Homo sapiens: one gene and its partner. The protein of the gene in region 1 purifies or fractionates together with the protein of each later gene. This does not show direct contact. Each region holds a gene or a part of one and is shown in the gene's direction. Other genes may lie near its edges. The genes, in order: DMPK and PDCD10.

The links.
Region 2: the proteins of DMPK (region 1) and PDCD10 purify together in Homo sapiens (affinity purification with mass spectrometry, with the first as the bait; one large-scale study listed by BioGRID). This does not show direct contact.

The regions. Positions count from the first base shown.
Region 1 is NC_000019.10:45,775,754-45,779,568, reverse strand, and holds part of DMPK (myotonin-protein kinase), read left to right. Parts: exon of another isoform or gene 1-46; coding exon 47-130; intron 131-209; coding exon 210-305; exon of another isoform or gene 306-435; intron 436-927; coding exon 928-1,076; intron 1,077-1,348; coding exon 1,349-1,442; intron 1,443-1,695; coding exon 1,696-1,902; intron 1,903-1,978; coding exon 1,979-2,242; intron 2,243-3,815. UniProt on the Homo sapiens protein: Non-receptor serine/threonine protein kinase which is necessary for the maintenance of skeletal muscle structure and function.
Region 2 is NC_000003.12:167,724,614-167,728,428, reverse strand, and holds part of PDCD10 (programmed cell death protein 10), read left to right. Parts: intron 1-2,955; exon of another isoform or gene 2,956-3,028; intron 3,029-3,815. UniProt on the Homo sapiens protein: Promotes cell proliferation. Modulates apoptotic pathways. Increases mitogen-activated protein kinase activity and STK26 activity. Important for cell migration, and for normal structure and assembly of the Golgi complex.

The DNA.
Region 1 (3,815 bases):
TTTGTTTTCCCGCCGTCTCCACTCTGTCTCACTATCTCGACCTCAGGTAGCGGTAGTGAAGATGAAGCAGACGGGCCAGGTGTATGCCATGAAGATCATGAACAAGTGGGACATGCTGAAGAGGGGCGAGGTGAGGGGCTGGGCGGACGTGGGGGGCTTTGAGGATCCGCGCCCCGTCTCCGGCTGCAGCTCCTCCGGGTGCCCTGCAGGTGTCGTGCTTCCGTGAGGAGAGGGACGTGTTGGTGAATGGGGACCGGCGGTGGATCACGCAGCTGCACTTCGCCTTCCAGGATGAGAACTACCTGGTGAGCTCCGGGCCGGGGTGACTAGGAAGAGGGACAAGAGCCCGTGCTGTCACTGGACGAGGAGGTGGGGAGAGGAAGCTCTAGGATTGGGGGTGCTGCCCGGAAACGTCTGTGGGAAAGTCTGTGTGCGGTAAGAGGGTGTGTCAGGTGGATGAGGGGCCTTCCCTATCTGAGACGGGGATGGTGTCCTTCACTGCCCGTTTCTGGGGTGATCTGGGGGACTCTTATAAAGATGTCTCTGTTGCGGGGGGTCTCTTACCTGGAATGGGATAGGTCTTCAGGAATTCTAACGGGGCCACTGCCTAGGGAAGGAGTGTCTGGGACCTATTCTCTGGGTGTTGGGTGGCCTCTGGGTTCTCTTTCCCAGAACATCTCAGGGGGAGTGAATCTGCCCAGTGACATCCCAGGAAAGTTTTTTTGTTTGTGTTTTTTTTTGAGGGGCGGGGGCGGGGGCCGCAGGTGGTCTCTGATTTGGCCCGGCAGATCTCTATGGTTATCTCTGGGCTGGGGCTGCAGGTCTCTGCCCAAGGATGGGGTGTCTCTGGGAGGGGTTGTCCCAGCCATCCGTGATGGATCAGGGCCTCAGGGGACTACCAACCACCCATGACGAACCCCTTCTCAGTACCTGGTCATGGAGTATTACGTGGGCGGGGACCTGCTGACACTGCTGAGCAAGTTTGGGGAGCGGATTCCGGCCGAGATGGCGCGCTTCTACCTGGCGGAGATTGTCATGGCCATAGACTCGGTGCACCGGCTTGGCTACGTGCACAGGTGGGTGCAGCATGGCCGAGGGGATAGCAAGCTTGTTCCCTGGCCGGGTTCTTGGAAGGTCAGAGCCCAGAGAGGCCAGGGCCTGGAGAGGGACCTTCTTGGTTGGGGCCCACCGGGGGGTGCCTGGGAGTAGGGGTCAGAACTGTAGAAGCCCTACAGGGGCGGAACCCGAGGAAGTGGGGTCCCAGGTGGCACTGCCCGGAGGGGCGGAGCCTGGTGGGACCACAGAAGGGAGGTTCATTTATCCCACCCTTCTCTTTTCCTCCGTGCAGGGACATCAAACCCGACAACATCCTGCTGGACCGCTGTGGCCACATCCGCCTGGCCGACTTCGGCTCTTGCCTCAAGCTGCGGGCAGATGGAACGGTGAGCCAGTGCCCTGGCCACAGAGCAACTGGGGCTGCTGATGAGGGATGGAAGGCACAGAGTGTGGGAGCGGGACTGGATTTGGAGGGGAAAAGAGGTGGTGTGACCCAGGCTTAAGTGTGCATCTGTGTGGCGGAGTATTAGACCAGGCAGAGGGAGGGGCTAAGCATTTGGGGAGTGGTTGGAAGGAGGGCCCAGAGCTGGTGGGCCCAGAGGGGTGGGCCCAAGCCTCGCTCTGCTCCTTTTGGTCCAGGTGCGGTCGCTGGTGGCTGTGGGCACCCCAGACTACCTGTCCCCCGAGATCCTGCAGGCTGTGGGCGGTGGGCCTGGGACAGGCAGCTACGGGCCCGAGTGTGACTGGTGGGCGCTGGGTGTATTCGCCTATGAAATGTTCTATGGGCAGACGCCCTTCTACGCGGATTCCACGGCGGAGACCTATGGCAAGATCGTCCACTACAAGGTGAGCACGGCCGCAGGGAGACCTGGCCTCTCCCGGTAGGCGCTCCCAGGCTATCGCCTCCTCTCCCTCTGAGCAGGAGCACCTCTCTCTGCCGCTGGTGGACGAAGGGGTCCCTGAGGAGGCTCGAGACTTCATTCAGCGGTTGCTGTGTCCCCCGGAGACACGGCTGGGCCGGGGTGGAGCAGGCGACTTCCGGACACATCCCTTCTTCTTTGGCCTCGACTGGGATGGTCTCCGGGACAGCGTGCCCCCCTTTACACCGGATTTCGAAGGTGCCACCGACACATGCAACTTCGACTTGGTGGAGGACGGGCTCACTGCCATGGTGAGCGGGGGCGGGGTAGGTACCTGTGGCCCCTGCTCGGCTGCGGGAACCTCCCCATGCTCCCTCCATAAAGTTGGAGTAAGGACAGTGCCTACCTTCTGGGGTCCTGAATCACTCATTCCCCAGAGCACCTGCTCTGTGCCCATCTACTACTGAGGACCCAGCAGTGACCTAGACTTACAGTCCAGTGGGGGAACACAGAGCAGTCTTCAGACAGTAAGGCCCCAGAGTGATCAGGGCTGAGACAATGGAGTGCAGGGGGTGGGGGACTCCTGACTCAGCAAGGAAGGTCCTGGAGGGCTTTCTGGAGTGGGGAGCTATCTGAGCTGAGACTTGGAGGGATGAGAAGCAGGAGAGGACTCCTCCTCCCTTAGGCCGTCTCTCTTCACCGTGTAACAAGCTGTCATGGCATGCTTGCTCGGCTCTGGGTGCCCTTTTGCTGAACAATACTGGGGATCCAGCACGGACCAGATGAGCTCTGGTCCCTGCCCTCATCCAGTTGCAGTCTAGAGAATTAGAGAATTATGGAGAGTGTGGCAGGTGCCCTGAAGGGAAGCAACAGGATACAAGAAAAAATGATGGGGCCAGGCACGGTGGCTCACGCCTGTAACCCCAGCAATTTGGCAGGCCGAAGTGGGTGGATTGCTTGAGCCCAGGAGTTCGAGACCAGCCTGGGCAATGTGGTGAGACCCCCGTCTCTACAAAAATGTTTTAAAAATTGGTTGGGCGTGGTGGCGCATGCCTGTATACTCAGCTACTAGGGTGGCCGACGTGGGCTTGAGCCCAGGAGGTCAAGGCTGCAGTGAGCTGTGATTGTGCCACTGCACTCCAGCCTGGGCAACGGAGAGAGACTCTGTCTCAAAAATAAGATAAACTGAAATTAAAAAATAGGCTGGGCTGGCCGGGCGTGGTGGCTCACGCCTGTAATCTCAGCACTTTGGGAGGCCGAGGCGGGTGGATCACGAGGTCAGGAGATCGAGACCATCTTGGCTAACACGGTGAAACCCCATCTCTCCTAAAAATACAAAAAATTAGCCAGGCGTGGTGGCGGGCGCCTGTAGTCCCAGCTACTCAGGAGGCTGAGGCAGGAGAATGGCGTGAACCCGGGAGGCAGAGTTTGCAGTGAGCCGAGATCGTGCCACTGCACTCCAGCCTGGGCGACAGAGCGAGACTCTGTCTCAGAAAAAAAAAAAAAAAAAAAAAAAAATAGGCTGGACCGCGGCCGGGCGCTGTGGCTCATGCCTGTAATCCCAGCACTTTGGGAGTCCAAGGCCGGTGGGTCATGAGATCAGGAGTTTTGAGACTAGGCTGGCCAACACGGTGAAACCCCGTCTCTACTAAAAATACAAGAAAATTAGCTGGGTGTGGTCTCGGGTGCCTGTAATTCCAGTTACTGGGGAAGCTGAGGCAGGAGAATTGCTTGAACCTGGGAGGCAGAGTTTGCAGTGAGCCAAGATCATGCCACTACACTCCAGTCTGGGTGACAGAGTGAGACTCTGTCTCAAAAAAAAAAAAAAAAAAAAGGGTTGGGCAAGGTGGTTCACGCCTGTAATCCCAGAACTTTGGGAGGCTGAGGCAGGCAGATCAC
Region 2 (3,815 bases), on another chromosome or scaffold:
CAAAACCCTAAGATGTTACACACCGGCTGCCTCCTCAGACTTATATAAGGTTACTACAACAGAAGCCAGTTGGGAATGTTAAATGAGTCAGACCTGGCCTCTAGACAGCAACTGCACCCTATACGAGTTTAGATTGTTGCTAGGCTTTTTTTCATTTAATTCCAAAGCATTTGGAATCCTTTTTTTTTTTTTATTGAGAACTGCACATCTTTCTCTATGTCTTTATCCATATTAAAATCGGTATTTATGCAGTACTGTCAAAATTTGAGAGATTTCCAAGGTTCTACCTTATTTTTGGTATGCTCCCTTAAAAAATAAATCACACTTTTGCGAAGTGAAGGTTACAGGAGGAACAGTAGATGCAGTAAAAACAGATACTATCCTAGCCCTAATTTCTTCTTGTAAGAAATAGTATTTGTATTTGAGATCAATTGGGAGCTAAAGGTAAAGTTAAATGTCATCATCAAGATAGAACCTTGGCCTCATTAGCACCTAATGTTAAATAAGGCAGAGGCTATTTATTGTCTGGGGCTAATAGTTTCTGTCAACATTTGAGTGCCCTGTGGCAGTGTTTTTGGTGCAAAGAAATTGTGTAAAGTAATGAAAGTACCTGTTGCATGTTTTAGAGGATCTTAAGCCATTAGGAGTCATTAAGTTAAATTCTAGGTATCTAAGATTATAAGTGATACAAAGCAAGTAGCTCTGATCCAGGGTGGTACAGATTCTTTTAATTGTACCTTTAAGCAGAGAGGACCTAACACTCTGAGGAATTAAGTTTAGTTGAATTTCTAAGGGATTTTAAAGGAAAGCTTTAATTAACATCGTATTGGAGAAACTAAGACAAGGAATAATACTAATAAAAAGGAAAATAGACATGTACCTCAATTAAACACCAAACAACTATTCAACTAGGCATTATTCATGAACCATTAGGTTGAGAACTTTATGGGCAAAAGATGAACATATTCAAGGGGACAGATTTGTTTCCTGTCTTCCAACAAGTGTTTTCATTTAAATTTTACTCAGATCAGAATTTACCAAAAATTTAGACATAGGAAAAAAAAATGAGGATTGTCACAACTAAAGAGATGTATGTTTTTCCCCCTGAACAAGTTGCTTTGAAATATCGTAGGAGCCAATTGTTACTATTTTGTTACTGTTTCCATTTCCCATCAGCTAATTCTGAGGTAATGAGCTCTTTAATTTTGTTGTCAACTTTTGATTATCTTGTACAGATTATAAACCTTTTATGAATTATCTCAAGGGCTTTGATCACATCTTGATTTCAGTGTGCAACCCAGCCTGCTACCCAGCCTGCTTCTGGGCCATGGTTTCCTTTGTTAAGTTTATCTATGTACATTTAGAAAAGTAATTTTAACATTGGTTTGGCAAAAAGTTTTAAAATGCACCTGATGGCCAAATTCTTTTATGTAAGCCAAAACTAAGTGTATTTATGCATCCATTTTGGCAAATGGGAGATAAAAGGTTTTGAAAATATGCTATGTAGGTGGCCTTTATGACATTGTGATATCAGTGTTTGACTCTCATTGTGTATGTTATGCAGGGGCAGGACTAGGGTGAGGCAAGAGATATGCCTAGGGTACAAACTTTGAAGAAGCACTAACTCTCTCAGTCATGCAAATCAGAGCAAAATTTTGTGTTCTAGGCATCTGGTTTGCCTCACCCTAGTTGCAATCGATTCCATGTCAGGTTCCTAGAATTTTGGCTAAAATATTAATAACAATATGAATAGAATGGTTATTATGTGTTAGCCACTGTAGTAACTATTTTATATGCAGTTAGTACTCTTAATCTGGGGAAGTGAGTACTTCAGTATTTCTGTTTCTCACTAGTTTAGAAATAGAGATTTACAAAACTGAAATGATAGCATCCAGCTGAGCAAAAATTCAAACTGAGGTTTTTTTCCTTCCAAACTGAGCACTATCTCCTGCTGTATACTGTCTATCTATGTGTAGAAAAAGTTACTTCTTACCCATTTTATAAATTTCTGTATTAAGAAACAGTACTCTGGCCAGGCACAGTGGCTCACGCCTGTAATCCCAGCACTTTGGGAGGCTGAGGCGGGTGGATCACCTGAGGTCAGGAGTTTGAAACCAAACTGACCAACATGGTGAAACCCCCATCTCTACTAAAAATACAAAATAGCCAGGCGTGGTGGCAGGTGCCTATAATCCCAGTACTCGAGAGGCTGAGGAAGGGGAATCGCTTGAACCTGGGTGGAGGTACGCCACTGCACCCCAGCCTGGGTGACAGAGTGAAACTCTGTCTCAAAAAAAAAAAAAAAAAAAAAAAACAGTACTCTACAAAATATGTAAGTGCATACACTTGACATGGTGCAGTTAACTTTTAAGATGAGCTGGAAGTCTCAGCAGCACCAAGTTGAAGATCCACAAGCTTGTGCTGCTAAGTACCCTAGAGTTGTCAGACATATTAAAGAAGAAACCAAAGGATAGAGAGGTGAAATGACTTGTTCAGAGACAAAGATAGTTTATGAATGACAGGACCAGAATTTGAGCCCATGCTTTGAGACTTTAAATGCTTATGCTTTTTCCCTGTATCTTTCTGCACAAATTGTCCATTTAATATTTTTAAAGCATATATATATATATATATATATATATATATATATATATATATATATATAAACGATACAATGGTAAAGTGCTATATACACTTACCATTAACAAGAGATTGCTTCTAGATGTCCCTAAGTGTAAAATTCTGTAAGTACTAAACTGACAGTAGTGTATGTTCAGGGAGGTTAGGTTCCACTTAACTTTATTAAGAAAACTGGAAATGGAAGACATTGAATTATAGAAGATGTAATTTGCAAGTCAAGGAGAGAGATGTAGGTATATCCTTAAGACATCAAGCTCATTTTACTCTAAGTAGGATCACTGACTTACCCTATTCCTCTGCCTCCCTTTTTCCTAGCTTTCTCCTCTAAATCTTGGTCTCTTGTTTGGAAGTGACTAACAGCATTTTGGCATGAGAAAGCCCTAAAAAGGTACGTAAACTGTGTCAGCAAATGTTAACCCCACCCCGCTTTGTTAAATGGCCAGACTACCATCTATACAGTCTTTGTAAAAATCCATTTTCTCTAAGAGTTTGATGAGTGATTTTTTTTTTTTTTTTTTTTTTTTTCTTTTTTGAGACAGAGTCTCGCTCTGTTGCCCAGGCTGGAGTGCAGTGGCACGATCTCGACTCACTGCAACTTCCGCCTTCCAGGTCCAAGCAATTCCCTTGCCTCAGCCTCCTGAGTAGCTGGGACTACAGAAGCCCACCACCGCATCTGGCTAGTTTATGTATTTTTAGTAGAGATGGGGTTTCACCATATTAGCCAGGCTGGTCTTGAACTCCTGACCTCAAGTGATCCACCTGCCTTGGCCTCCCAAAGTGCTGGGATTACAGGCATGAGCCACCGTGCCCAGCTGATGAGTATGATTCTCTGTGTTATATTATTGAGAGAAAGCAAGGAATTGTCAGTTAATTGAAATCCTGGGTTAACCAACTCTTGGGGAGGACCTCCTTAATTAGAATTTGTAAATAATTTTTAATGATTTGATGCTTAAAGAAAAATTTGTCTTAAAGAAATTCCTATTAGATTACTTTGGAAAGTATAGCTGATAACAATAATGAAGTCTTATTATCACTGAATTTTGGTTCCAGTGATAATGTGGCTGGGTCCAGGCTTTGTTAATAGAATTAATTTGATTTTTGTGTTTGTTTTTATTTTGCTAGGCATGCTATTTGAAAAGTATATTAGCAAGACTGATTCAATTTATAAATTGCCC